6 separate regions of the Homo sapiens genome follow, and all the other regions are reported to be linked to region 2. The links are microRNA targets in miRTarBase. Many come from high-throughput screens and were not tested one by one. Region 2 holds a microRNA gene; each other region holds the end of a gene's coding sequence.
Evidence for each region. The annotated mature microRNA hsa-miR-301a-3p reads CAGUGCAAUAGUAUUGUCAAAGC and lies in region 2 at 1,673-1,695, opposite strand. An mRNA with a match to its seed (bases 2 to 7 or 8) in the 3' UTR can be bound and repressed. Matches are read on the target gene's strand: a 7mer-m8 pairs with bases 2 to 8, a 7mer-A1 pairs with bases 2 to 7 and ends in A, and an 8mer does both.

Region 1 (5,240 bases), not on the chromosome of region 2:
CAAGAAAAGCTTTAAAAGCCTGTTACCAAAATGGGGTAAAGAGTAAAACAAAACAGTAGGGAAATGTGTTTTGGTGTGCCTGTATAGGACCTCAAATTGTATTTTATCATAGAAATAGTATTAAATGCAGATATTATTATTATCAATAATAACTTCTTTTGTATATGCTTTATAATTTCCCAAGCACTTGCTATGCATTTGATGCTCAAAAAACTCTGAGGCAGATAGGGCAGGAATTACTGATTTCATTCATTCAGTGAATATTCATTGAATATCAGGTACTATTCTCAATGTTTAGGATATGTTAAAGGACAAAGGTAAGATTCTCCTCTCCAATAGGGTTTACATTCTAGTGAGAGAAGCAAGACATGAACAGTGATAATTAATAAGTTCTATAGTATGTAGAAAGTGGTAAGTAATGGGAGAAAAAAAGCAGTGTAAAGGGGAATCGATTGTCAAGAGGTGGAGGTGGGCATGTGGAAAAAGGCAATTTAAACAGGTTAGATAATGAGATTATAGTTGAGCCAACTTGAAGAAGGTGAGGCAGAGAGCTATGGGAAGTCCAAGCAGAGAGCAGCCAGTACAAAGGTCCTAAGGCCTTTGAGTGCTTGGTGGGCTCAAGGAACAGCAAGGAGGCCAGTGAGTGTGCAGTAGAGTGGGATGCAGGGGAGAATGCCATAGAATCTCTGTTTAAAGATTAACTCAAATTCCCATAATTAAAAGACATAGCCAAAGTCTGGTTAAGGTAGAACTTGAAACTACTTACGTGACTCTAGATTAGTTGCTTCTGTGAATATTTTCCCTCATATTTCTAGAAAGGGAGGATTAAAAAAAGAAATAATGACTGATTAATGACCTGTATTATAATTTACACTTTTATTTTTACTTGACAGTCTTTATTACATCATTCTCAGCTAGTCTGAGTTTATTTTCACACACTGTTTTTACTAAAGGAGAAAATACTGCTTTGTCACAGAGTGTGATTTCATTCTCTACTGTGTTTTAAGTTATTAATTAAATTGAAACCTAAGCTTTAATTTTGCTTTCAGGGGTAACACAGTAATCATTTGACTTATTTAATACTAATTCAGAAGACCTTATTTTATATTTATTGTTTCATTGTATGTCCTCTAATCTTTCTTTTAAAGATACGGATATAATGCAGGAGAAGCTACCCACCATGCGGTGGATTCTGCGGTCAATGTTGGCGTAACTGCCTACAATATTAACAACATTGGTATCAAAGCAATGGTGAAGAAAACTGCAACACAAACAGGACACACTCTCCTTGAGGACTATCAGATAGTTGATAATTCTCAGAGGGAAAATCAAGAAGGAGCAGCAAATGTCAACGTGAGAGGGGAGAAGGATGAGCAGACGAAGGAAGTAAAGGAGGCAAAGAAGAAAGATAAATGATGAAGTGCTGGGAATCACTTATACCAAAGCCTTATGAAATGGATGAAATTTTGTTAAATAGGCAAATGTGGAATTCCTCACAGATTAACCAGTATTTTTTAAATGTATTCATTCCTACAAATTAACTTTCATAAATTTTATGGCATGTCTTCTATTTAAAAGGAAAAGAATAAGTATTCTTGCATCTGGCCTTAGAAATGTGAAGTTATATTCTCAAGTTTATTTTTTTCCAAGTGTAGCTAAAATATTTTTGCAGGTAAAATAAAGCTGATAGTACATGTGTTGTTCAAACCTTGTTAAACCTAATATTGAACTATTTTTATATCTGCTGTCTTTCAGAAGGCAAATAGGAAACTATATATTTGCTTAAAAATTGGCATTTAGTAACCTTAATTCTTTTTATAGAAGGAATGACTTAAAGTATTGTCCCCTCTTTTTGCACTAATTGTGGATTTTTTTAGATGCTTCTCAAAATTTTCAGTGTGTAAGCTAAACAAAAACTAAAACTAAGAATTCTCAAAAAAACTTGTTCAAAACAGGGAAAGACTGATGAAAAGTAAAATGGACTACTTTTGTAACTTACCTGTTTGTTAGGAAATGGAATGGTCTCTTTGATTTAAAATAAATAAAAATAGATTATTACGTCTTTTGTATTGAGACTGTATTGTTATGAGCCTAGGAAATTTGGGAACATGATTGTATTGTATTAAAATTCGAAGTGATTATTATCAGCTTAATTGGATTAAAAAAGTACTTCAAGAAATTATTTTATCATATCTGCTTCTGTTTTTCCAAAAGGTTAAAACTTGTAAAAAAAATATATATAAACAATTGAGTTTACTAATGGTAAACATTTTTATTCTGGGATTCGGTCATTGGAATTTATATTAAAAGACAAGTTATTAAAAAGGAAAGGTTCTATTCATAATCAGGGTAAAGAATATGAAAACCTTAGACGTAATCCATGGTGGATAGGCATTATGGTTTCCACTTTGGCAGAAGGCAGACTATTCACAGCCCTATTTACTTACATAGGCTAAAAAACTATGTAACTAAATACCTAATGGTATTTAATTTTTGTTTATTGAATTTAAGAGATTGGTATTAGTTTTCATAGCTGTAGTCCATTCTAATAATTTCTGATCTTCTAGTGGCTACTTAATTAGACATTATTTGAAGCTGTCTGAAGAATGCACTTTATGAATTAAAAAACTGAATTGCCTGACCTCGTTATCACATGAGCTTATATTTTGGGAACACATAGAACTGATGGAGGCTTTTCCTAAGGCCAAGGATAATGTACTAGTTGTTAAAATGGAAATAAAAGTGAAGTGGTAAATAGCTTACAGACAGTCTATGCTTTGTTTAAGAAATGGAATGGCACTTCATATATTCTCATTTGTGGGAGCTAAAAATTACAATAATCAAACTTAAGGAGATAGAGAGTAGAATGATGGTTACCAGAGGCTGGGAGGCATTGAAGGGATGGGGAGGGAAGTGAGGTTGATTAATGGGTACGAAAATATAGTTAGAACGAATTTGTTGTAGTATTTGATAGCCCAACAGGGTGACTACAGTCAACAATAACTTTATACATTTAAAAATAAAAGAGTGTAATTGGGACGTTTGTAACACAAATGAATGCTTGAAGCAGTAGATACACCCTGATGTAATTATTATAAATCGCATACCTGTATCAAAATATCTCATGTATCCCATAAATATATACACCTACCATGTACCCATAAAAATTTAAAAAGAAATGGAATGGCAAATAATGGAACATAAACTTTAAACAGTTAGCTTTGACCAGAGGTCAGCAAATATCCTCCATGGGCTAAATCCAGATGTCCACCTGTTTTCATAAATAACGTTTTATTGGAGCATAGCTGTACCCATTTGTTTACATATTGGCTATGGCTGCTGTCTAGTTCAACGTGAGAGTTGAATAGTTGCATCAGAGAGTATATGGTCCACAAGCCTAACTTATTCACTCTCTGGCCCTTTGCAGAAAAAGTGTGCTGCCTTAGTCTATAGAAAATGGACTTTTCCCACCATTCACTGACTCATTAGGAGATAGGCATCTTCTAAAGATTTTTTTTATATTGTGTAATGATTGATATATAGATAAAATTATATATTACTTGTAAGGTATGATGAATAACAACACTTAAAAACTCATCACACCTAAAGACATGGAAAGCTGCCAATTACCTATATGTATGTTCTTCCTATTTTCTTACCTCTTTCCCCATGTCATTTTTTATTGTTCCTTGCCATTTTTTAATCACACATGTATGTTCTCCAAACATACTGTTTCATTTTTTGAAGCTTTCTACATATAGTGTCTGAATGTGAAGTCTTACTCAACTTGCTTTTTTGAGTTTATGTTTAAAATTCATTCTTGCGCTTATATGCATGGATGGTTTACTTGCTCTATAGTATTCTGTGTGAGTATACCACAATTTAAGTGTTCATTTTCCTATCAGTTGACATTTGTTTTTAGTTTTTGTTGGTAGAAACAGTACACTCAAAACATCCTTGACTGTCCCCTGGTACACATATGCAAGAGACTTTATGCGTAAGAGTGGAGTTGTTGGCTTGTCAAGTTTTGCAAAATAATGCCAGGTATTTTCCAAAATGATGATATTCTCTTGAGTATTACTTCCCTTTGCAATGTTTTTATTGTTAATGTAGCATATATAAAAAAGTATCTCATAATTTTAATTTGTGTTTTCTTGACCTCCTTTCCTGACCTTAGATCAGTAATTTTTCATGTTCATTTGCCATTCATTTGCCTGTGCTGTAAAATTTGCGTGTTGTCACTGCTGACAATTTTGCTTCTCATGTTTAGGTGTTTACTGAGAATTGTGTATATGTGTGCAAGAGGTAAGGTATCTAATTCCTCCCCTCCTCCCCCACCCCGTAGATAATCAGTTATTTAACCCCCATTTATTGAATAGTTCTTTTCTTCAGTAATTTCCCACAGGTCTTTCTCTATATATAGAGTATGAGTGTTTCTGGGCTCAGACGTTTGTTCCATCTGTCATTTCTTTTGTTCCTGTGCCAGTCCCACACTGTCATCATTGTAAATTAGTAAGCCCTACTGATTGTTAGGGCAAGAGGCTCAATTCCCTCAACCAAATTCTTTAGGAGTATTTTGGCTGATTAAACAAGTTCCATAAGGAGTTTAAAATCTTCCCACAAAGAAACATCAGCCCCAGATGGACTTACAGGTGAGTTCTAACATACCCTAAGAAAATAATGTTACCTTGGGTGCAGAGGTGCACACCTGTAATCCCAACACTTTGGGAGGCTGAGGTTGGGTGGATCTCTCGAGTCGAGGAGTTTGAGACCAGCCTGGGCAACATAACGAGACTAAAGATATTGTTGGACATTGTGAATTTTACCTTATTGGGTACTGGATGTTTTGTGTTCCTATAAATATTCTCGAGTTTTGTCTTGGGAGGGGATTAAGTTACTTAGAACCAGTTGGATACTTTTGGATCTTTCTTTTCAACTTGTTAGGGCTAGTGTTTTTTCCGACTCCTAAATCAAAATCCTTTGTGTACCTGATGCCCTGTGAATTCAGAGGTTTTCCATTCTGGTGGGTGGTAGCAGGTATTATTCCTACCTCTGTAAACTGTAAGGATTTCCCCTCTAATCCTTTGTGATGGTTCTTTCCCCAGCCTGAGTACTTGCCCCACCATGTGTGTGCATTCATCAGTATTCTGCTGCAGAGTGTACCTTGTGGCAGGCCAGGTCTCATTAACACAGGCCTCCATAACAACTGTTTCAGTACTGACTTGAGTGGCTAAGTTAAA
Region 2 (4,000 bases):
GCCTGGGTGACAGTATGAGACCCTGTCTCTAAAGAAAAAGAAAAAAATATTGCTAAAAAAAAAATTAAACAAAGACATTTGGGAGGGCAACACAGGAGGATCACTTGAGCTCAAGAATTCGAGACCAACCACAGCCATTTTATTCATAATATGCAAAACGTGGAAATGACCCGATGTCTATAAGTTGGTGGATAAAGAGTTTGTGATATTCTATACAATGAATACTACTCAGCAATAAAAACTGTCCAACTGCTAATATACAACATGGATGAATCTCAAAGCATTATGCTAAGTGCAAGAAGCCAGACACAAAAGACTGTATAATGTATGATTCCATTTATATGAAATTCTAGGAAAAGTTAAACTAGAGATCAGTGGTTGCCAGGGACTTGGGGAAGAAGAGGTTGACCACAAAGAGGCACAAAGGAATGTAGGGGTCTCACTCTGTTGCTCAGCCTGGTCTGGAACTACTGGGCTCGAGTGATCTTCCCACCTCAGCCACCCGAGTAGCTAGGTCTACAGGTGCACCACCATGCCTGGCCACAAAGGAGCTTTTTGTAAAGTAACAGAAATGTTCTATATCCTGGCTGTGGTGGTGGTTACATGACTGTATACATTTGTCAAAACTCGTCAGTTCACTGGGCATGCCACACCCCTGTAGTCCAAGCTACTCAGGAGGCTGAAGTGGGAGGATTGCTTGAAGCCAGGAGTTCTAGGCTGTGCTGCATTATGATTGCCTCTGTGAATAGTCGCTGCCCTCCAGCTGGGCAACACAGCAAGACTTCGGCTTTGCTTAACAAATAGCTTACTTACTTTTATTTTATATAATTGTATCTCAATAAAATTCATATTTTTTAAAAGTGATGAATCCACACTATTGTATCTCATAAGAATAAACTGTAAAACAAACACTCTTAGGTTTTAAATTCAACCATTTCCTAGACAATACACAAAATTAACACCAATTAAGATTTGGAGGACTAGGCACAGTGGCTCACACCTATAATCCCAGCACTCTGGGAGGCCAAGGCAAGAGGACTGTTTGAGCCCAGGAGTTCAAGACCAACCTCGGCAACACAGTGAGACCCTGTCTCCACAAAAAATTTCAAGAAAATATTAGCCAGGCATGGTAGGACACGCCTGTGGTCCCAGCTACTTAGGAGGCTGAGGAGGGAGGATTATCTAAGCCCGGGAGTACAAGGCTGCAGTGAGGTGTAACTGGGCCACTGCACTCCAGCCTGGGCAACAGAGAAAGACTCTGTCTCTGGAGAAAAAAAAATGACTTGGGGCAAGTAACTGCAGGAAAAATATACAGCAGAAATTGTTTCCATCACTACCAATTCATCATAAAACTCAAATAAAACCTAAAGTTTGACAGAACCTATCCAAATATGTAACAGAAAGCAACAAATTATAAAGTATTACTCATTTAGACAAACCATAACAACTTAGATATAAAAAATATTCTCCAGACGTGTTTCATAATGCAGTAAAATATTGTTTTTAATTAGTTAAAAGGTTTTTTTTTTTCAAATTATGACTTTCTAAAAGATATACTGTTAGTAACAACATTATAGTTCTCAGCAACAAAGGTTGTGGTAAATTATTTACTGATACCGAAGAAAGATGTAAGGTAAGAATCAAAATTCTGGCGTGCATCCTGCTTTCAGATGCTTTGACAATACTATTGCACTGCTAGCTGTAAAGTACAGTAGTGCAATAAAGTCAGAGCATTCGTTAGCAGTAATAAGTAGGAAAGGAACACAAAAGCATCTTGCATCGGTTGAAGCTTCAGTGAGAAACGAATTTAAAGTAGGGTTGCCATTTTGGACAGAAAAACATCCAAAACCAAAAAACATTTATATCAATGTTTTTTTAAAAAAGGATAAGACTTAAATATCAAAGTGATGTTGCTTATTGATGACTAATATACAAATTAACATTCGAACAGAAACATGCATAGATGTAGAAAGGAATTTTGTAAATATGCCCTAAGCCTTAATAGTAATTAGAATGGGTATTGTTAATACTTTAGGATTGGTATTAACAAAACCAGTTATAATTACTACTAAGGCAAAGTTGTGAAAAATATTTTTGTTCTCTGCAGAGATGTTGGTTAGCTCCTTCTTCAAGGCAATTTACTGATTAAACGCCATGTAAAACAAGCCCTTTGAATAAAAGTATCAAAGAAAACAAATGAAAAGTAAAATAATAAGTTTCTCAATCTCTACATACTCAATCTATCACTCTGGAATCTAAACCACTAAACAAAGAAAACACAAAAGCACTTACCATCTTACAGCTTTTTATCTTGAGTTTACTAAGGGCTGTCATAACAACAGAAGGGAATCAATGTGCTCTAAACAGAACATTAACCCTATCTAACTGAATACTATCCAAGGGGATTTTAAAATTTCAGTTAACTCCTGAAATCTTAAATAGAGGCAGAAAGCATCTCCATTTCCTTCAAACTTAGAAATGTCAAAGAGAAAATAATGATGGGGGGAGGTGGGACTGAGATTTAAGTAACAAGTTTCCTTAGTTCCAAGCTAATTGACATTTTAACTTTTTTAACGGATAAGAACCCAATCAGAAGTCAGATGTAAACCCAGAAACAGAAATAGTATCATAGTATCACACTGCATTACCTTTTGTGTACAGTCACTAGTAGTACCACGAAAGAACAAAGCTAAACAAATACCACCCCATCATTAAGTGAAGGGGAAAAAGTCAGAGAACAAAGATTGCCCTACAATAAGCTTATTCCCCCATTAGTAATGTTGATTGATGCAAAAATATATTTTCATTATTTTCACCAACCTCCCTTTAAACGGTCCAATTCAACTACTTAGTCGGATTGAGCCTACTAAGGAAATGGGCTCATACAAAGGACAGCTGAAATATAAGTGTCTTGGTGTCAAATCCTGGGCCACATAACTAAAATATTAGAATATTTAACGCTGGTAGCCAAGTTTCAGGTTTTAAAGACAACTGTTTAAAAGATAAGTGTTTAACTTTCTGAATTGGAAGTTATTACAAACAAGAAAAATATTTAAAAAATTTAAGGTATTAACAAAATTAGGATAAACACTTTCTTTTCAAATTAAATATTATGCATTTCCTTTTACCTTGACAAATCCTTTATTTAACTGATGTAAAACCAAAAATCAGAAGATAGCACAGGAATCATTTACTCTTAAAATCTTATAAAATAAACTGGTCCACAAGTATAACATTTTTTTCTAGAAGCACATGGTAAATCTGAAGATGAGATGCACTGTCTTTTATTATCTAGTCAACACAAAGCAGTAATAATTAGAGCCATGATAAAAATTCATTTCTAAACCCTAATAATTATGGAAACAAACTAATAACCTGAAAGGAAAAAAAAAAAAGCTACCACTAATTTACTTGCAAGGATGTAAGAAAGGAAAAAAACCTCATTTCTTTTTTTCCTGTCTTCAAAAAGAATTTAAATACTACCCCATCATTCAAACAATACCTAAAAGTTTAAATGTCTGGCTACCTTATAATTTTCTAAAACCTACTTTTTCAAAATGTTTACTTCATCATTGTTCACTTAAAAGAGAATTTGTTCAATCTAAAGAAGTCCTGTGAGAATACTGACTCTACTGTAAAAGCCAGACGAAGTTTAAAAATTAGAAACAGCCAATTTGAGAAGCAAACAACCTGTTAAAAGCAGAATTAGCATCATTTAGCAGAAATGAATTATGAATTTAAGCAGAAATATCTATATCAGTAGGGAGGAATTCAGAATGGGAGAAGGGCAAGATAGTCTTAACATTTAAGCCTGTTGACAGAATCAAATTACAATGCTTAACATTTTGTTTTTTTTAAATGATAATAAAACTTAAAACTAAAAGTTCATTATTACAGGTTTGAAAATCTGCAGGAAATTCTTCCTTCTTCCCTCCCATTTCTCCCTACACTTCTCCAACCCCACACACACTGCACAAAGAAAATTTAAACACAAAATGCT
Region 3 (5,240 bases), not on the chromosome of region 2:
TATACCAAGAGTCCCAACCAACTGGTCACCCCTGCAGCAAGCCGACTCCAGCTCGTATCAGCCATCAACCTCTCCACTGCCAAGGATTCCAAAGCCGTGGTCACCTGTGTGATCATTGTGCTGTCAGTCCTGGTGTGCTGTCTTCCACTGGGGATTTCCTTGGTACAGGTGGTTCTCTCCAGCAATGGGAGCTTCATTCTTTACCAGTTTGAATTGTTTGGATTTACTCTTATATTTTTCAAGTCAGGATTAAACCCTTTTATATATTCTCGGAACAGTGCAGGGCTGAGAAGGAAAGTGCTCTGGTGCCTCCAATACATAGGCCTGGGTTTTTTCTGCTGCAAACAAAAGACTCGACTTCGAGCCATGGGAAAAGGGAACCTCGAAGTCAACAGAAACAAATCCTCCCATCATGAAACAAACTCTGCCTACATGTTATCTCCAAAGCCACAGAAGAAATTTGTGGACCAGGCTTGTGGCCCAAGTCATTCAAAAGAAAGTATGGTGAGTCCCAAGATCTCTGCTGGACATCAACACTGTGGTCAGAGCAGCTCGACCCCCATCAACACTCGGATTGAACCTTACTACAGCATCTATAACAGCAGCCCTTCCCAGGAGGAGAGCAGCCCATGTAACTTACAGCCAGTAAACTCTTTTGGATTTGCCAATTCATATATTGCCATGCATTATCACACCACTAATGACTTAGTGCAGGAATATGACAGCACTTCAGCCAAGCAGATTCCAGTCCCCTCCGTTTAAAGTCATGGAGGCTATAGGATCTTATGTAAACAGTTTTTGTTTCTGATAGTAATGGACTTTATTCTAACTTGAGATCAGTGGCGGATCAAAACCTACAAGATTCAACTGAAAAGTTGGCAGTTATGGTTTTCTTTCATCTGATGTGTCAGTATCTGTTGATTTGCTTTGTAGTTTGTTGACATCTTAAGATTTGATGTGAAAGTTTTAGATTTTTTACCCTGCTCTTTGCCTCAGTCTTTTGTACCGAGCCTTTAAATAGATGCCAGGAATGAAGCTACTGTGTTAAAGTAGAAAGTCAACCGATTATCATGATTTGAGTCAGTGTTATGTGACTTCAAAATAAGGTATTGACTGGATTTTTTTTAAAGAATGTGAAAATATGATTTTTGCTGAGGTGTTATTTTTATTAATTGAATTGTAAATTTTGATTTTTTGAAGTGTTGAAATCGGGAACACTACACCTTGTTGGTAGCAGGTTGATTTGAATAAATAATATATTGTTAGCTGGGTGCAGTGGCATGCACCTGTAGTCCTAGCTACTTGGGAGGCTGAGGCAGGAGGATCACTTGAGCCCGGGATTATGAGTCCAGCCTGGGCAACACAGCAAGACCCTGTCTCTAAAGGAAATGTATATATTCTTTTTTTTTTTTTTTTTTTTTTTTTTTTTTTGAGACGGAGTTTCACTCTTGTTGCCCAGGCTGGAGTGCAATGGCATGACCTCGGCTCACCGCAACCTCCACCTCCCGGGTTCAAGTGATTCTCCTGTCTCAGCCTCCCAAGTAGCTGGGATTACAGGCGCATGCCACCATGCCCGGCTAATTTTTGTATTTTTATTAGAGACAGGGTTTCTCTGTGTTGGTCAGGCTGGTCTTCAACTCCTGACCTTAGGTGATCCGCCTGCCTCGGCCTCCCAAAGTGCTGGGATTACAGGCATGAGCCACTGTGCTTAGCCAGAAATATATATATTCTTAAGGCAGAAAAGGTGATAACTCTGTCTTTACCAAAAACACTCACACAGGTATTAGGTACTTTTCTTTCATAGGACAGTCAACTAAGAATATAGTATTATGATTATTGCCATTTCTTATTATAGACATGTTTTATGTCAGTTGAGTAGGTTTACAATTCTTTTGAAAAGAAATATATTTGGGCCGGGCATGGTGGCTCACACCTGTAATCCCAGCACTTTGGGAGGCTGAGGCGGGTGGATCACCTGAGGGTCAGGAGTTCGAGACCAGCCTGGCCAACATGATGAAACCCCGTCTCTACTAAAAACACAAAAATTAGCAAGGCATGGTGGCAAGCACCTGTAATCCCAGCTACTCGGGAGGTTGAGGCAAGAGAATCGCTTGAACCTGGGAGACAGGTTGCAGTGAGCTGAGATCGTGCCATTGCACTCCAGCCTGGGTGACAAGAGCGAGATGTCATCTCAAAAAAATGAAAAAAAGAGAAAGAAAGAAAGAAAAGAAATATATTTTTGCTTGTTAAAAGTGAATTATTTATTTATTTATTTTTTTCCTGAGAGGGAGTCTTGCTCTGTTGCCCAGGCTGGAGTGCAGTGGCATGATCTCTGCTCACTGCAACCTGCGCCTCCCGGGCTCAAGTGATTCTCCTGCCTCAGCCTCCTGAGTAGCTGGGATTACAGGCGTGTGCCACCATGCCCAGCTCATTTTTGTATTTTTTAGTAGAGACAGGTCTTGAACTTGTCTTGAACTCCTGACCTCAGGTGATCTGCCTGCCTCGGCCTCCCGAAGTGCTGGGATTACAGGCATGAGCCACCCCAACTGGCCCAAAAGTGAATTGTTTCTGAATGATCTTATTCAAGAAGCCTAGTGAAGAGGACTGCATCTATGGTAGAGGTGCACTGTTCCCAGGAGAGAAGGCACTGCGGTAATCATCTCGGTGTTCTGTGGAAAACAGTGTGGACTCCTGTCATGCATTGGGCAATATTTATTATTGCTTAACAAGGTTTACAGATAAGACTGGGAATGTTTTGATTTATGTTTTCCTTCTGTGTGAGAAGAGTTTACTAACCACCTGACAGTATTCAAGTAACTATTTAGAAATGACTTCTTTTTTGTCTTTATTTATTATTATGGTAGAAAAATTCTCAAGATAATCTATTTTCAAACTAATCATTTTATTTCTCTCCCATTAATCTTAAAGTGGAAATGGGCAGAAAGAAAAAATAGATTTAAGTATTTCTATACCTGAAACTAATTTTACTATATGCTCTGAGATTCCTAGCATAACAACTGTGAACTCATATTTTATTGTAAAAATATTTTCAGTATACAGTTAGTATTTGAACTCACTAGGTTTTTAAATGTTAGACACACAAGATGAGCATCAATATACAACACCTATCTTTATAAATTGTTATATTCAAGAGTTATTATTGCAGATTGGAAGGTACTTTGTTCCTTTGCGTAAAAGTCTTTTTTTTTTTTTGTAGAAACAGAGTCTTACTCTGTCACCCAGGCTAAAGTGCAGTGGCATGATCTCAGATCGCTGCAACCTCCGCTTCCCGGGTTCAAGCGATTGTCTTGCCTCAGCCTCCAGAGTAGCTGGGATTACAGGTGCCCGCCACCACTCCTGGCTAATTTTTGTATTTTTGGTAGAGACAGGGTTTCACCATGATAGCCAGGCTGGTCTTGAATTCCTGGCCTCAAGTAATCCACCCACCTCGGCCTCCCAAAGTGCTAGGATTACAGGCATGAGAAACCACATCCAGCTGAAAGGCATTTAATTTATAGTTTCCTCCCTCAGCTCTCCCCAAATACAGGGGTCATGAGAGGTATAGAGAAGACAGAATAGATATTCAATTAGAACTCTGCTCAACCTTATCTTATAACTGTTACCTTTCAGTATTGATCAGTTATTTCTATTTTTGAGATTTAAATAGGCATAGATTTTCTTTTGTTTTCTTTTTCTTCTAAATTTTTTTCTTGCCACACCCAGGGGCAGCCTCGAATTATTTTGTTTTTAAGTTCACCTTTTAGACTGATTTGCCTACCTACTCCCTCCTTCTTTCCCTTTCTCCCTCCCTCCTTCCCTTTTTCCCTTTTCTTTTTTTTAAGATGGAGTCTCATGCTTGTTGCCCAGGATGGAGTGCGGTGGCACAATCTCGGCTCACTGCAACCTCCGCCTCCCAGGTTCAAGCGATTCTCCTGTGTCAGCCTCCCGAGTAGCTGGGACTACAGGCACGCACCACCACTCCCAGCTAATTTTTGTATTTTTAATAGAGACAAGGTTTCACCAAGTTAGCCAGGCTGGTCTCAAACTTCTGACCTTGTGATCCACCCACCTCGGCCTACCTAAGTACTGGGATTACAGGCGTGAGCCAGTGCACTGGCCTATTATCTCTTTTTAACAAAGAATTAAGAAATCTAATATTCTTTCCCAAGATCGTACAAAGAATTGTGGCAAATTAGGAATTAGATTTTTGTCTTAATTCAAAACCTGGTATTTACCCCAGTGTGCCAAACAGCTTTATAATGAAGACAACATTAATCAAGCATCACATTTTTAAAGGCATATATCTATTTTTTTGGCTATGCAAAAAACCTTGTCTCTATTAAAAATACAAAAATTGGCTAGGCATTTCAAATGTGATACAATAAAATATTAACACAAAAGTAATTTCTATTTATAAAATTTAAAATGGCAGGTTTTCTGTGTGACGTTTGAGTTTGAGATGATTTGACTGGCATGAGGCCCATCATTGGGAGGTAAAAATTACAGCACAAAGAAAACTAAGCAGGTGCATATGAGGTATTGTCTCTTTATGCTCATCAAAAAATAATCTCCAAAAGAAAAGTTAAAAAAATTATTGTTATAAATTGCATGAAATACATAGTGGGCTCGATTCATAGCCCCCGTCCGTATCTATATCTCTATATCTATAGAGACATAACTTCTTTCTTCGTAAGTTATATATGTCTACTTCTACCTGTGTTATCATAATAAAGGTGTCATGATGATACAGGTGGAGGTAGAAATATATAACTTATCTCTTCATAAGGGCTAAAATGAGAACTAAAAGTAATGAGAATTCAGTTGAATATGATTAATTATCAGGATATGTTAATTAGTTCTCTTGATGCTTACTGTGATGCAAAGTATGTGACGTATTTTAAACATTTTATAATAATTGTTCGTATGTTAACCATTAGGCAAGATTTGTATTTCTAATGCTTTTAATGTTCTTTTAAAATAATGTTTGGAAAATAAAAATACTGAAAATCCTAACATTTCTGAACACCAGTTTGCAATATAATGAATTTCCTGTCTGATCATTTTAAAACTATCAGAGCATGGCAATGATCATTTTTGCCCAATGGATAACAATGTGTTGAACCACAGACAGAGAGCTCTTTGCCTTAAGAGATGAAATAACTTGTTTGACTATATATAAATTTTTTTTTTTTTTTGTAGAGACGGGGTCTCCCTATGTTGCCCAGGTTGGTCTCCAACTC
Region 4 (5,166 bases), not on the chromosome of region 2:
GGGGGGTGGAGGTTGCAGTGAGCTGAGATGCTGAGATCACGCCACTGCACTCTAGCCTGGGTGACAGAGAGAGACTCTGTCTATCTAGAAAAAAATATTTTTAAAAGTGGGATGAAGTCGAGGCTGGGGTGCAGCTGCACCTGGGGGAAGGGACCAGAAGCAGGGGTTGCCGTTTCTTGTCTCGGCAGCCCACGTGGCAGTGGCTGCTTTCTTGTCTTGTCTGCAGACTGTTCCTCAGACTGGGAAATGTGGCCATGGCAGATTGGAAGGTACCTGCTCCAGGCCCAGCCAGCCAGGGAGACTACTGAATTCCAGGGAGAGGGACTTGTCAGATCAGCTAGGCTTGGGTCTAGCGCCTGCCCTGGCACCAATAAGAGGTGACAACTGCGGGCACAGTGCTAAGACAGTCACCAGGTGGCCTTGAGAGAGTTGTTGGAAACTGGGAGACCCTTGCTAATGGAGAGCTGCTGGAATGAGTTTGGCAATGCAAAGCTAGGCGCACAGGTGCTGTTCCATATCCTTCCATGGACCATAGTTGCAGCTGGGTGAGCTGTCAGCTCCAGCCTCACTACAACAAGGGATATTGGCTGGGGACCCTGCCCTCAGCCCCATGGCACTCCCCTTTCTTGTGCACTCAGCTTGGTGGATTCCAACTGCAAGTACCTGCAACTCTGCCTCAGGGAACGGCCTCCACACTGGACTGATGGGAGGGAGTAGCTAGACTCCCTGGCTCCTGCCCCTGGCAGTGGGACCAAATCTGAATTGCATCCTACATTGACTTCCAGAGCTCTCCAGGGGCACTGAGGTCCAGCTGCCCACAGCAGGGACCTGTTGATGACACACTTTGCCTGGCTGCCCTCCTCCCCTACCCTCCTCCCCATCTTGCCTCCACACTCCCCTCCTCCCCTACCCTCCGCCCCATCTTGCCTCCACACTCCCCTCCTGGCGTTACCTGGATCACTGCACTGCTTTCTACCTTTCTACCTTTTCTCTGGGTTTGCTTCTGGGGACCCGACTCAAGACCCTTGTAGTCTTTTTTTTTTTTTTTTCTGAGACTGAGTCTGGCTCTGTTGCCCAGGGTGGAGTGCAGTGGTGTGATCTTGGCTCACTGCAAGCTCCACCTCCCGGGTTCATGCCATTCTCCTGCTTCAGCCTCCCAAGTAGCTGGGACTACAGTCGCCCGCCACCACCCTCGGCTAATTTTTTGTATTTTTAGTAGAGACAGGGTTTCACCATGTTAGCCAGGACGGTCTCGATCTCCTGACCTCGTGATCTGCCCGCCTCGGCCTCCCAAAGTGCTGGGATTACAGGTATCAGCCACCCTGCCTGGCTGACCCTTGTAGCCTTAACAGCTAGGTTTCCCAGAGGAGAGGTGAGGAGCCTTTGAAAAATAAGAGCATAGGCCAGAAACGGTCACTCACACCTATAATCCCAACCAACACTTTGGGAGGCCGAGGCGGGAAGGATTGCTTGAGCCCAGGAGTTTGAGACCAGCCTGGGCAACATAGGAGATTCCATCTCTACAAAAACAAAAAAATTAACCAGGCCTGGTGGGGCATGCGTGCATGACAGAGTGAGATCCTGTCTCAAAAAAAAAAAGATAAGAGCATACGCTTTTCCATTCAATTGTACCTTTTTTCTTTAAAAATAGAGCTCTTTATTTAAACAGTTTAGGGTAATACCAACAAGCAGTAGGATATCGTTTAAATATGACATAAACATAGAAAAAATAGAAATAAATACAAATACATAAGAACAACATATACCGTTAGTAGTCTAAAGGGATACATGTTGCTTTCACCTAAGGCACTAACACTTTTCACGGGATATGCTTCCAGCGCAGGCCCAGCCCACACCGCGCAGTTCCCACCTGCTGTGCACGTGAAAGGGCTTTGTAAACAGTTAAGTGCTGACCACACAAGGCAAATTATTATACTGATTATCATGCCCTTTCCAAATGCTTCTCCTGGCTTTTTGTGAATGACTTAATGACGATAAAGGAGATGGAGTTTAGAGTTACTGGAAAACTTAAGCTATGTCAGAAATTAAACTCTGGAAAAAATTCTTTAAAAAAATAGTAAGGTTTGGCTGGGCGCGGTGGCTCACGCCTGTAATCCCAGCACTTTGGGAGGCCGAGGCGGGCGGATCACCTGAGGTCAGGAGTTCGAGACCAGCCTGGCCAACATGGTGAAACCCCGTCTCTACTAAAAATACAAAAAAATTAGCCAGGTGTGGTGGCGGGTGCCTGTAATCCCAGCTACTTGGGAGGCTGAGGCAGGAGAATCACTTGAACCCGGGAGGTGGAGGTTGCAGTGAGCCGAGATTGTACCACTGCACTCCAGCCTAGGCAAAAAGAACAAAACTCCGACTCAAAAAAACAAAACAAAACAAAAATGGTAAGGTTTAAGAATAGAAACGGAGTGGTTATTTCATACAAGTCTAAGATGATGCTGATGATAGCTTTTACTTTTTTGAAGTTACCTCCACGAAGCAGCTCGGCTGGTGCCAGAGAGAACATCGGTACAGGTCTGGGAATTTCCCTGGGAGCTGGCCCCAAGCCACAGCCCTCCCCAGCTCCGTAGTTTGTTTGTTCTTCCTCTCCTGGGCTCAATCATCTGGACAAGCCTCACTGCAGGGAAAACCCCTGGGGAGACACAGGTGTGTGTCGTATGTGTGTATGCATGTGTGTGTGTGTGCCCCAGCAGCGGTGAAGGCCTCCTGACCCTTAGAAATCCTGGCTGTGACCTTCATATTTTACTGACATGGACAAGGGGTCAGAGGTTGGCCCGGCTGTGCAGAGATCGAAGCTCTTACCCTTGGGGATGTGCACAAGTCATCAGAGCAGCACTGCTGGGCGACCTTGGACAAGTGCCTTTGCCACCCTTGACCTCAGCTCCTTTGCAACAAAAGGAGTGGTTTGCTAACTTTTTCTTGAGTAGTGGATCCCTCTAAACAAAACCTCACGTGGAAAGCCACAGTGTGTGAATCAGGGCACAGTGAGGCTGCTCTGGTGAAAGTGGGAGGCTCCTATAGCCCCATGGCGCCCCCTGCAACTGCAGCCCAAGGCCTCTGGGGGACATGGTTTGAGAATCCCTGGATGAGATGCCCTAAGAAGCTTTTCCAGTTCTGCCATTTAATGCTGTACCCTTGTGGTGGCTTTAAAGCAACACAGCTCTGTGGGTTCAATGGCTTTGAAGATCCCTTCTTCACAAATCCAGAAATGTTAGTCCTGGCAGGTTGAATGGCCACAGAGCCAAGGTTGTTCAGATACTCCACCACAAAACACTTCGGTCCTACGGGTGAAAACTCAGCTACGCTCATCTATATTCAGGTGGGTGTAGGTTAACTGAGGATGCATCAGCACCCCCAGGTAAGGATAGTCACCTGAATCTAGAAGGCATTGGTTTCTCATAACTGGAAGGGAGAATGGGACTTCTAAGGACCACAACGGTCAACCAAGAGTCTAACGTGCCATCCAAACTGGGATTACAGGCCCAGAAGTCCGATTCCTGCCATGTTACTGTCCTACTCCAACAAACTGGGTCCCTAGAAGGTGGAGCAGTTGGTTCCTCCCCTGGGAAGCAGGGTTCCCATTGCTAGGTGAAGGCGGAGAGACCAGGGTCCCCTTGGGTGGGGCTCTGGCTTCTGAGAGCTCACTCTCCTGACTGGGAGGCAGTGAGGGTAGAAGGAAGGAGGTAGACTGGGGATGAGACAAGCTGAATGTTAAGTGCTCTCAGTCACTCTGGGTTTAGGGGCCACAGGTGGGAGATGCCCAGGGGTCTCCTGGAGCCTGGATAGATGGAGAATTCTACCGGCCACCACGTAGAGAGCACCCAGGACACAGCAGGCTCCGTGCTACACACATCTGAGATCCCCTAGAACCCTCACCACACCCAGGCGTAGCTGCAGATGAGGAAGCCGAGGCAGAGAAGGAAGATGTCTTCCCCAAGATCATACAACCAGTGAACAGCAGAGCTGGGATTTGAACCCCGGTCTGTCTGACACTAAAACCGTACAGTGCCATGACTCCAAAGACCAGGATTTGAGGACAGCCACCCTTCCCTTCCCATCCAAAACCCTCAGCCAACTGGATTTTTATCTGGGCCTAACTAGGGGACCCATGAATCAGGAGGCTGAGCCCTGGGATGGGGGAGTTCAGTGGCTGCTGGGAAAGGCATGAGGTATAGCAGGTGTGCCTCCAGTGGTCTCAAGTTCCAGAGGGCCCCTTGGTGGTGTCCGCCCTTGATGTCCGCAGTGACCTGACCTCACCTGTTTCATGTTGTCCGGGGATAATTTTTCCCCCTGGCCTGTCACCCTAGGGACAATGGGGGTGATGACACCCCACCAACCTCTGACCTCAGCCCACCCTGTGTCCACCCCTCTTATAGCTCAGCCTAAAGAGGGCGGGTCACAGGAGGGAGGGGCATCTTGTTGCTCAGCCCGACAGGCAAACAGCCGCTAGGTGGACTTCCCGGAAGTGCAATGCCCCTCCGCCGCCCAGGGGAGGTACGGAGGCTCTTGAGTTTCTTGGGAAGCCCAGTAGTCCTTGCAAAGGCAGCAGCAGCATCAGATTCGGTGGGATGTCGGGGGACAGCTCACCTGGCCATGTAATGCCCCAATGTCCGGCCCCTGTCCTCGGTCCTCTGGGTGCTCTCAGCCCCCCAGCTGCCCGCATCGCTGTCCTCAATTTCTGATTCCCTCGCCTCCTCTTCCTCCTCAGGGCTGCTTTCCCAGCAGAAGGTCAGTGTCTGAAGAGAAACTGGGGGTCCCCCAGGGACCAGATTCGGCTCCGGTGGTAAGGTGCCCCAGGTGGCCCAGGAGGAGAGGTTATCTTCTGGGAGCTCTTCCAGGAAACCCGAGTCCTTGGAGAATTCAGGTGGTGGGAGAGATTCTTGGTGCCCATCCCCACCCGGCCCTTGGCCTGGCCCCTTCTCAGCCAAATAGCCAGAGGACCCAGCCCTGTCCCAGGAGGAGTCCACAGTGCTGGCCCAGCTTCTGTCTGAAGAATCCCAAGCAGAGGAGCCTTCGCTTGGGACCAGAGGAGCCCTGGGCCTCCCTGAGTCCACCCCACCAGCCTCCGAGTGCCCTGGAGCCTGGTGCTCTTGCCCCAGGAAAGAAGGTGGTTCAATGTAGGGCTGGAAGCTGACGCCATCTTCTGTGTCCTCC
Region 5 (5,240 bases), not on the chromosome of region 2:
AGCTGGGCCCTTCACTCATGCTGCTATCTCCTGATGTCATTGTAGTCACACCATGGCCGCAGGACTCAGATACTGTCCCGAGGCCCCTCCCTGAGGGGCAGGTGGTGGGTCTCAGGGCCCTTCACCGGGCAGGGGGCAGTGGATGACTCGGTGCTACCTCTCAGGGCGGACAATTGGCTCAGAGGGGCGCAGCACCTGCAGTAAACATTCTGACCCCTGTTAAAGGATCTCAGCATTGGGGGGGCTGCAGCCTGTGGCTGCTCCATCTTCATGCAGAATCCCCAGTGTCCTCTAACGATCCCCCCACTTCCTGTCTCCCATCCCTGCAGTGTTTCCTCTCTCTGGTGCTTTCCCTAACCCAAGCCTCAGAAAACGCTTTCCCTGTGTGATCTTGACGCCTCCAGCCCTCTCCTCCACTACCTGCGAGGTGGCCCTGATCTGACACATGCATGGCCCCTGTAGTGGACAGCTGCCATTTGCGGCCACCATTGAGGATATCCATTCATCCAGCCCTCCCCCAGAGCCTTCTGTCCCTTGCATAGCCCATGTGTGTCCAGGGAAGTGGCCCCATGCCTAGCTCCAGGGAGCCAGCCCTGACGGAGAATTACCCCCTACCCCAGCCAAAATGATTGGACGCACAATCCAGTTCTGACCAACGAGAAGAGTGTTTATTTGCTGGGGGCATCTGAGACAGCAGAGGTGGTACACAGAGAAGATGCTGCTCTGGCAGTGAGGGAGGGATTCCGTGGAAGCTGCAGGCAGCCATCTTTTCATCCTCGGAGGTGGTGGCCTGGGATGTAGCAGATACCAACGCAGAGGGAGGCAGAAGACACTGGGTGAAATTGCTCACCTGCTGCCAATGCCAATACCACTGGACTTTTCACTTTCATAAGCCAAGAAATTTCCGTTAACTGATTAAACAAATTGCCTTTATTGTTAAACCAATGATTGGATATCAGAAACAGCCTAGCTAATATAGCTCCTTTTGGATAAAAGTAGAAGCCTCACATTCACCTTTAATGTTATTTCACTTTTTCCAAAATCAATTTCCTGGCACCACACAAACAAGAACACTGGTAAATGTATCACCTGAACTGCAGGCCACACATGCTCACGAGTGTGTCCCTGCCGTAGGTGGCTTTGAAGCCATATACATGGCTCTCCAGCTCTCGTGGGGGGCCAGGGGCTTCTGTGTGCTCTTCAAAGCCTTCACCCATTGGGCCTCTGTCCATCTTTCCAGCCTGGGGACCCAATATTTGCCCCACAAGGCCCAGGCAGGAGGGCCTCCAGCACGCGCAGCCCTGACCACACTGTGAGCAGCTCACTTGGCAAGGGTGAAGGGCCGGAGTGGCGTCCTCCTGATGTGGCTTCCTTCCAGCCTCTACCACCCCTGGGGGCCTCCTCCAAGGAGCAGGTGGTTAGATGTCCTCTTGTGCCCACACACACGGCAGGGTGGAGGAGGATGAACCGGAACCCAGTCCATGCTTCTGCCCCCACCCTGGCACCCCAAGGTTTCTTCTCAGGCAACAAGGAGCACACAAAGTGAGCCCCTGTACACAGGTGGCTGGGATATGTTCATCTTCCACAGGGAGGCCAGTGCTGGGGATGAGGACAAAGGCCTACGCCCAGTCCCAGCTCTGACACTGCCTTGCTGAGTCACCCATCAGCCCTAACGCTTCCTGGACGAGACAAGCAGATAGGGTGCCCCAGAGAGGAGCTGTGTCACTAAGGGCCAGGACACCCCATCTCTGGGTCACACTTGGCCACGGCTTCATTTTTGGCTTCAGTTTGTTTACTGAACAGAAGGGAGAGGGGCCCTGTGAGACAGAGGACACTGACTCAGGTCGGTGAGTGGCCCTCACTGTATAGAGTCCATGGCTGGGGACCAAGTGGCACTGAGACTCGCCCAAAGTCACATCACAGAGCTGGGGTGCCTTGCTGACTCCCTGGCCCCAATCTGCTTTTCCATTTGTCGAACGCACACTGGCACACTGGCTGCAGCAGCTGCGGGGGTCGGGGGGTTCCAGGGCTGGCTGTCACTTGGCCTCCTGCAGAGGTAAGCTGAGGGCTATGTTGGACCCGCCAGAAGTCAGGTGACAGCTGCTTTCCCTTTCAGGATCGGGAGGGAGTCACCTGAGGGTATATTCTCAGTGGGCTAAACATGACATGCGAGAGCCCAGCTCTCCAAGCGGCCCCTTCCTCCTTCTCACACCAAGGCACTTTCAGAAGCCGCTGGATTCCGACTGGGGCTGTGCCACTTCATCGCCGGTGCCTCTGCTGTGCCGGCTCTCCTCTTCTGAGGGTGTGGAAGCAAACCCAGGTCAAGCTGTGAGGAGTGCCTAGCACCTGGCCAGAGCCAGGTACATGCCAGCTATGATGATGATGAGCCCAACTGCAACAGGAGAACACACTTAGTGCGACATGCAGCGGTAGCCTGGCGTTGGGCACCTCCCCATGCTCCGAGAATTCTATTTGGAGAAGCCCTTCTCCATTGTCTCAGTCACTTCAGGGTGCAGGAAGCGGCTGGCCAACCGTTCGATGTCGTCCAGCGTCAGGCGACTCAGGGACCTCTCGTAATCCTGGGGAGAGAAGGGCAGGAAGATTCAGGGGCTGCCAGTGGTGGGGGGGCATACACTGCAACAGAGGTAGGGGCTGGGAGCAACTGGGCCTGAAGAGGATGCCCAGGGTTACCCTTCTCACCCTCTGTAGCTGTTCCAGGACCCTGCTGGCATCTGCCGCACTGAAGTGGCGGGCCAAGACTTTGGAGATCAGCTGCCAGACCTGCGGGGGTGGGGAGTCGGCCAGCCTCTGGGCCTCGCCTTCTTCTAGTAGCACCTTCTCCAGGGGTTTGACCACTAGGTTGAGCTTGGAGTTGGGCCCGATGCTATAATCCGAGAGTCGTTTCCCATCTGCCAAAGACAGATCGATGGGTTCCTCCTCCTCCACCGCCGTGGGGGTGGCCCGGGGCGCGAGGCCGCCTCGGGCGGCGGGAGCGGAGCGCTGCGGCATCCGGCTGTGAGGCATGCGGCCGCCTCCCTTGGGGTCATGTGGCGCTTGGCGCCCGCACCCCGACCCGACACACGGCTGCTGGCCTCGGCCCGCGCACCCCGGTCCCGCTTCCTGCGGGGCTCCCCGGGCGTCTCCTCTCCCTGGGTACCTGCCAGGGCCTTGCCCTTGAACAGCAGCCGCTGCTGGCGCACTGGGACGTTCAGCTTCTCGGAGACCAGCTGCTTCAGCGTGGACACCAGCTCGTCCTCTGGCACCTGGCCGCGCGGAGGGTGGGAGGCAAGGGTTGAGCCCGCGGCCCCCAGACGGCGAAGCCCACGCGTCCGCCCCCGAGGGCAGCTCTCCCGGCTCCCGGCCCTCGGCCCGGCCGCCCCGTGCCCGCCCTCGGCCCTGCCGGTCCCCCTGCCAGGAGCGGGCGAGAGAGCGCGCCGGACCCGGCGGCCCGGCCCGGGGACCCTACCTGCAGGCTGCACTCGCGGCCCTGCAGCGCCTTCACCGTCAGCTGCATGGCGGTCGCGACGGCGTCCACTCGGGCCGGCGCGCACCCCAACCACCCCCCGCCGCGCGCCGCCGCCCCGGGCGCGCGCTGGAACCGCCCGCCGCCGCCGGAAGCAGCGAGAGGGGCGCGCCCGCCGCCCGCGCTTCCCGGCCCCGCCCTCCTGCCCCGTCCGCGCCCCGGCCCCGCCCCCCGGCCCAATTGCGCCCCGGGAGGAGTCCCCCCGGGGTCCCGCCTAGCATGCGCGCATCGACCGCCCTGGCCGGCGGACCCCTCCCAAAGCAACGACGCGGGGGAGTTGGGAGCAGGAACCAGTCGGGCCAGGTTGGCGTCATCTGGGAGCTGGGACATGGAGAAGGGAGGGCCAGAAGGTACGCTCGCCCCCGCGGACTGCCTGGCCCACCTCACGCGCCAGGACTGCTGGCGGCGCCTGGCCCTGCATACCCACAGACGGCCCGCCCCCGCTCCCTGTCTGGTGGCTTCCTACCTCCTCCTTTCTGGTCTGGCTGCGAAACGCTCCACTGAGCTTGAGAGGGGGCAGGGGGGCTACGCCTCTGCCCTCATCCTCCCACCTCTCCCAGAGTGGGGACACCCCCGGGGAGGGCTGATAGGGAAAGCCTATGCAGGGGTCACCGTGTCACCCAAGCTGGCCCTCCACCCTGGTCCACACTTACCCAGCACACTCTTTCTACCCCCACGCCCAGGCCCCAAAGGGCAAAGAGTAGAAGGGACCCAAGCTTGCTTCTCTCTTTTATTGAAATATATTTTCTGGGCAGCGCCCACCTACCTAACTCAGCATGGCCTCTTTGGCACTGAAAGCTGGAGAATAAAAAATCAGTAAAAAAAATAAGCCTGGATTTTTCTGAGTGCATAGTGCATGAGAACTTTGGTGGAGTGTGGGGGCTGGGGCTGATGAAAGCTTGACCCAGAGGCCTCAGGGAACTGGGAACAGGCTGCTGTAGATGAAGTGGCCAATGACCAAGGCCAGCATCTCGGAGGTGCCGCTCAGCGCCACAATGAAGGGGGCCTGGGAGGCATAGTCAGCTTGAAGGCGGCGGAGGGATAGCTGCAGCATGGCCAAGGCCAGCAGGCTGTTCTGCACCCCTACCTCAATGCTGACCGTCCGCCGCTGGGCCACTGGCAGCTTCAGACACGTGGCTAGGCAGTAGCCCACCAACAGGCCAACCAGGGGCACCGTGATACCCACCAGTACGATGGGTAGCCGGATGCCTGCCAGGATGAAGACCCCCATGCGATAGGCCAGGAAGAGGCCGCCCAGGAGGAGCACAAAGCTGAAGGGCTTGACGACCTGCAGCAGCAGCTGGGAGAACTTGGGGAGCTTGGACTTGATCAGCACGCCCACGGCTATGGGGATGGCAATGAACAGCAGGGTCCCCAGGATCTTGGAGATGGGCACGTGGAGCGTCTCATGGATGCTGAGCAGGCGGCTGTAGATGGCCGAAGACAGAGGCAAGAAGCCAGTGGCAGCCACCGTAGAGAGGAAAGTCATGGAGATGGCCAGGGTGACGTCCCCTCCAAGAAGGAGGCTGAAGAGGTAGCTCCCCCCGCCGCCAGGCGACGAGCAGGTGATGATGAGGCCCAGAGCCAGGGCCTTGGGCAGCATGAAGACCTTGGCCATGAGGAAAGCGTACAAGGGCATGACCAGAAACTGGCCCAGGAGGCCCAGCAGCATGGGCTGGGGGCTCTGCATGAGCCCCTTCAGAACCTCGAGTTCCAC
Region 6 (5,196 bases), not on the chromosome of region 2:
GGAACTCTTTTCTAGATCACTACTAGACAGCTTTTGAGTCACAACAGGTATGTTACCCTGTTACTAATAATACAGAGCAGCACAGTGCAGTCATCCCTCACCACCAAGGTTTTTATTCCAAAACAGTTATTTGGCTAGACGTGAACCGTTAAGATACGGGATCAATGGAGTTACAATAAAGACAATGAAAGTGACAATTTATTAATACACAGTAAGTTCTAGAAGGCATCTTTCAAAACAAAACTTGATTTCTTTTGTATTTACATTTTTTGTTTCAAGTCTTAGCAAAATGCTAAAAGGCCTGGCCTAGTCACAATTACTGACATCCTTCTGGGACACAATTTTCTGGGCCTGTGTTGAATGAGGATAAATTATCTTTTCTCTAAAATGCCACATGAACCCTCTCTATATTCCCACATGAAGAGGAATGGAAGGTAATTATTTGGTCTTTTCTTCTGTTTAGGGGAATGAACTGAACCACTCATTTTTTTAAAATCACACTTAAAAGACACATGGGCAAAAAAGTTCCCCAAAACTACTGTCTTACCGAATTTGAGAAGGGAGGTAATGTATGAAGCTTAACAGCTGGCTTCAAAAGACACCTTTCCAAAGAAATTGTACTACCTCTATTAACGTGTAAACCACCAACCAAAAAAAAATAATAAGTTACTCCATCAAACACGTTATTATCCATAAAAAAGACTTCAACATTGTACTGGAAGATCTATTTAAGCATAAATAGTACTAAGCACCAATTACTAATCTGAAGGCCTCCTCACAGGTCCAAGGGCAATGAGCAACCTCAAGAGGCAGGTGACTGCACAAGCAGTAAGCTATGGATTAAAAATTAAAAGGATTTCACATTCTTTCCAAAGTGTACTGCCCGGTGTCTGGCACACGCATGTTACAATATGACAATCTGCTCTATTTGTGAGCACCTGAGTGTATTACAGGGGATTACACATGCATATGATAGAATCTGGCTCCCGGTACAGTCAAAGGAGAACAGCATCAGCCACCAAATGTGCTGATCTTACACTGAAAAGGGTTGACTGAAAACATTTCAAGGGTAATGTAAACACAAGAATAAAGCTGTGGGTCTATTACTTAGTGATGTGGTTTTATATGCTACATACGTAGACCTCTCTTTATACAATGAATATGGACAGTGCTGCAATAAAAACTGATGACACGTCAAATTGTTCACCTGAAGAAAAACCCTATTATAGTTCAGAAAATAATGCAACCAATTTTAATTTAATCTAGATACAGGTACTTTATTTACAAATATTTAGATTAATAGCATTTTGTTACATCAAATGAAGAGTACAGCAGTCTGAATAAATCCTTCAGTCACAAAAACAATAAAACCCACTGTAACTAACTTTGGGAGTCAGGGTATTGCACCTCAACAAGCCGCAGTCTTTAGTTTGTGATTGCTACCTTATATCCCAATGGGTGGTTTGTTTGTTTTGTTTTTGTAAATATACACACACACCAGCAGGTCATGGTCCCTGGGTGAGTCCCTTGTGATGCAACAGTGTAAGCAAAATGGATCACTGTAAGTCTTTAACAGAATATACCAATCTACTCCAGAAATCTTATTTTTTAAAAAGTTAAACAAAGACAAAAATAAAAATGAATCCACAAATTAACCAAAGCCTACTTTCTGCACATTCCAGTTTTGGCTTTTATTTAACATTGACTATACAATACTCTGGTACTACCACATGTTTACAACCCAGAAAGATGTACTTTTATGTTAGTGTCTGTAAAGAGGGATTTAAAATGTGTATTTTAAACACAGCAGTTGAGCTGAGTGCATTTTCTATAGTACGCTGAGGTGTTACCTATTCTATTTCAAATAAATTCTCAATTCCCAGCCACTGAATCATAAATGCAATAAAAAAAATCAACAGAAATGAAGAACTTAATAAAACATGTTGTCCAAAAAAATAAGATTGTTTCTCTTGCTATACAGTATTAATTCAGTGGCCAAACCACCTGGTGCAAAGTAATAACTTACTTTGTATCAGCACAAGCGCTGAAACACCTTTAGAAACACTTTCCCTTTTACAAAACAATTTATGCCAACATGACATAAAACAGCCCCTCACACTGTGAACACAGGGATATCTTAAGTTATTTCACTGTAGGGTTAAAAATGCACAATTTAAAATCCCTTAACAGCAGACCTGTGGTTCTGACTGTCCAGTTCAGAATCTGACCATTCCAAGAAGATAAAGGTATAAAAGCTTAAAATGTGCAATAGTAAACCCAGCCTTTTTTCTTTTTCTATACAGTAAGGCAAGAATGCAGCCTGTAATGCAAAAACGTTTACAAAAAGAGAAAAGCAGGTTAGCACATTGTCGATTGCACAAGAACAGTTAAGAAAATCAGCAGGTAAGCAACAGTGCAAAGATGGAACAGAATCTGCTAGTGTTAATCCTCTGATGCTAGGAGCTCTTTCCAGCATAATGTCCCCAAACACTGCCAGCACCAAGGGGTGGAGCCAGTACTACTTGTGAACTGCAGTTGTGTCTATTTCTTTGTGTGAAATGGAAGGGAGTAACATGGTCACATATAGGTCATACTGTACAAACTGGTATTTTATACTGTTCCAATGCCAGTAATCAATTTATTTTCTTCATTAAAATAATATACACAGAATGTATTGTTAGTTCGATTCCTTCAAATTTTATACATATTTACTTTCTGTTAAAGAGAAAAGGATAAAATGGTATAAAAAAAGATAAAGCTATTAATTAAGCACGAGAGAGAAGATAAATGGATATTTTCCCTGTGTGAGGCTAAGACAGAAGCAAATCTCGTTAAGAAAAATGCCACCCACACAACAGGAAATTTATCCAAAACAAAACAAAAGCAGTTATAGAACCCCTTCTCTACCATCAGAAGTAATTTCACAGCAATAAACTTATTGGTTACAACAGACATACTTGAACAGTTAAGGATGGGAAGAAAGGCTTAAGATATCACCAAATTAAACCGTACAGTGAGACAAAGCCTTGCCAAAGGGAGGGTAAAAATCATGAAGTCCAGCATCAGTGCTCGGTTTAAATCATATATTGGTGACATACTTATCACGAGGACAAGGGGGAAAAAAAGTCTAGATTTACCATGCAGGAGAGATTTATTACTCTACTTGCCTTTGATAACCTGATTACATCTAGTTGTTTAGCAGTTTAGTATTGTGTTAAACTGTTTTTACAACAGAGTTTTTTCTTTTTTTTTAATTAAACCCAGTAAGATGTACAGAAGACAATGAGGCAGTAAAAAGTACTGCTTCCAACAGACAGAGGTGAAAGGTCAAATGAGGGGCCACAGCAAAGAGGTCACTAGCAGCCACAGCCTTCTCTCTGGGGTTGGGGTTCACTGGTTAGCCGGCCTCCCTGCGGGGCTGAAGGTTTGTGTTGTACACCAGACTCAGCAGCATTCAGATCCAAGCTTCCATCCTGAATGTTCTGATAGATTTTCTTGGCAGCCTCAAGGAAGGCATCTTCTACATTCTCTCCCCTAAGAGGCAATTGATAACTTTATTGGAGAACCACAGTTTTCTACAAAAGACAAGACACTGACCTTTTGCTAATCTTTAGTTAACTGCCATGATGTCTCCAACTTAACCACTGTCATCTAATAAGAGATTACCAGAACACTGAGCTAAGAGAACATGGAAAACTATTTTCCTTTTTTTTTTTTTTTTTTTTTTGAGACAGAGACTCACTCTGTCACCAGGCTGGAGTGCAGTGGCCCGATCTCAGCTCACTGCAACCTCCACCTCCCAAGTTCAAGCGATTCTCCTGCTTCAGCCTCCCGAGTAGCTGGGACTACAGGAGCACACCACCACGCCCAGCTAATTTTTGTATTTTTAGTAAAGACAGGGTTTCACCATGTTGGCCAGGGTGGTCTCGATCTCCTGACCTCGTGATCCGCCTGCCTTGGCTTCCCAAAGTGCTGGGATTACAGGTATGAGCCACCACACCCGGCCGGAAAACTACTTTCTATGGAAAGCATACATACATACGTGTACTGAAAGCCCTTTCTACAAACCCTATTTGGACAACTACATGTGTTATATGCAATCATTAAAATACTGTATGTTAATACACACCATGACAATTCAGATAGGTCATTTCTGTGATAACAGAGAGGATACTCCAAACAGAAATGAAATCTCTCTGAACATGCTGAAAAAAATTCCAAGAATAATATGGTCTGCTCAGCCAAGCATGAACTGAGCTGTTTTTAATCGGGTAATGGTGACATAATCATGCTTAGCCACGTTAACACCTCCATTCAGTTTTCTTTGGACTAATAGCACAGCTGAGACTAAACGAAAACAGGTTAGCCTCTCCTCACCACAAGAAATTTTTGGCCTAATAAATGAAGAACAATGATGGGTGTACCACAGTTCAATAGCAGACATGGAAGAACAATTAGAAAATGTTCACTATGCTTCTGAGTAGACACTATTCCCTTAAATCATGCTTTTTAATGTGATCAGAAGTATTACAGGAAGAACAGATTGACCAAGCTTGTCTGAGATGCCAAACTCAACCTCACTTGTGAAAAGTCAAACACTGTCATTTGGGAAAAGTCAAACACTTTTGAAATGTAAACAAAGTTTCATTTATTAACCTGGGTTACCAACAGGCATAATCAAGGTACAATCTTTTAAGTAACAAAAATTCATATTATTTTGAAATGTAAAAAAGGAAGCAAAGAGATGTTTGCTGTTCTTCCTGCAGTAAGCATTACACATTTATAGATAGTACTTTATATGTGTATATACATTATATACTTTTCATATATACGGTTCTACTTTGAGAAACTTGAATATAATTGAAATATCTGTATTTTGGTCACACTTACGTTTTTGCACTCGCTTCGAGGAACAATAAGCCTAAAAATAAAATTCAGACTATAATTAGGACACTTCAAACTAACTCACAAGTGCACTTCTTTAGTAACATCTGAAAAAGTTTCCCATCAGTTTTTAGTACTCCTCCCATAGTATTTTATGAAAAAGTATGTAAGTTTGAGGTGGAGAGCATCTTTATATTTGTCACTAAATAACTGTACTGCTCCAACATAAATCACACAGAAATAGAAACACATTGTTACTTCCTCATTCTTGAGATTTCTGAGTCTGCATTTAAAAAAAAAATGCAAAAAAAA

Region 1: miRTarBase lists SPART as a target of hsa-miR-301a-3p. Seed matches in the 3' UTR shown: 8mer at 1,853-1,860.
Region 3: miRTarBase lists GPR75 as a target of hsa-miR-301a-3p. The part of its 3' UTR that is shown has no 7-base or 8-base seed match.
Region 4: miRTarBase lists IFNLR1 as a target of hsa-miR-301a-3p. Seed matches in the 3' UTR shown: 7mer-m8 at 4,477-4,483.
Region 5: the mRNA of SLC10A3 is a reported target of hsa-miR-301a-3p. Seed matches in the 3' UTR shown: 7mer-A1 at 4,374-4,380.
Region 6: the mRNA of RAB14 is a reported target of hsa-miR-301a-3p. Seed matches in the 3' UTR shown: 7mer-m8 at 2,413-2,419.

Annotation. Positions count from the first base shown.
Region 1 is chr13:36,300,541-36,305,780 of GRCh38, reverse strand. SPART (spartin) reads left to right here. Exons shown (of 9, transcript NM_015087.5): 9 at 1,149-4,143. The coding sequence ends at 1,416. Among named protein-coding and RNA genes, the nearest start is that of CCDC169-SOHLH2, 5.3 kb to the right of the region's middle.
Region 2 is chr17:59,149,477-59,153,476 of GRCh38, forward strand. MIR301A (microRNA 301a) reads right to left here and starts at 1,745; the gene lies at 1,660-1,745. All of the region lies in intron 1 of SKA2 (spindle and kinetochore associated complex subunit 2), which reads right to left. RefSeq lists a silencer at 624-703.
Region 3 is chr2:53,848,656-53,853,895 of GRCh38, reverse strand. It overlaps GPR75 (G protein-coupled receptor 75), which reads left to right. Exons shown (of 2, transcript NM_006794.4): 2 at 1-984. The coding sequence ends at 762. The region is part of intron 1 of GPR75-ASB3 (GPR75-ASB3 readthrough); the gene reads left to right. MIR3682 (microRNA 3682) reads left to right here and starts at 4,691; the gene lies at 4,691-4,774.
Region 4 is chr1:24,152,535-24,157,700 of GRCh38, forward strand. IFNLR1 (interferon lambda receptor 1) reads right to left here. Exons shown (of 7, transcript NM_170743.4): 7 at 1,634-5,166. The coding sequence ends at 4,596. It overlaps LOC124903879 (a long non-coding RNA gene), which reads left to right. Exons shown (of 3, transcript XR_007065544.1): 2 at 2,478-2,658; 3 at 4,721-5,166. Among named protein-coding and RNA genes, the nearest start is that of IL22RA1, 12 kb to the left of the region's middle. RefSeq lists enhancers at 363-960, 961-1,558, 1,559-2,156.
Region 5 is chrX:154,483,071-154,488,310 of GRCh38, forward strand. It overlaps SLC10A3 (solute carrier family 10 member 3), which reads right to left. Exons shown (of 2, transcript NM_019848.5): 2 at 4,241-5,240. The coding sequence ends at 4,437. It overlaps UBL4A (ubiquitin like 4A), which reads right to left and starts at 3,545. Exons shown (of 4, transcript NM_014235.5): 1 at 3,467-3,545; 2 at 3,158-3,263; 3 at 2,701-2,909; 4 at 647-2,579. The coding sequence starts at 3,514. The coding sequence ends at 2,469. RefSeq lists enhancers at 2,234-2,992, 2,993-3,751, 4,089-4,148 and silencers at 2,929-3,078, 3,569-3,828.
Region 6 is chr9:121,178,040-121,183,235 of GRCh38, forward strand. It overlaps RAB14 (RAB14, member RAS oncogene family), which reads right to left. Exons shown (of 8, transcript NM_016322.4): 7 at 4,891-4,921; 8 at 94-3,534. The coding sequence ends at 3,357. Among named protein-coding and RNA genes, the nearest start is that of RAB14, 21 kb to the right of the region's middle.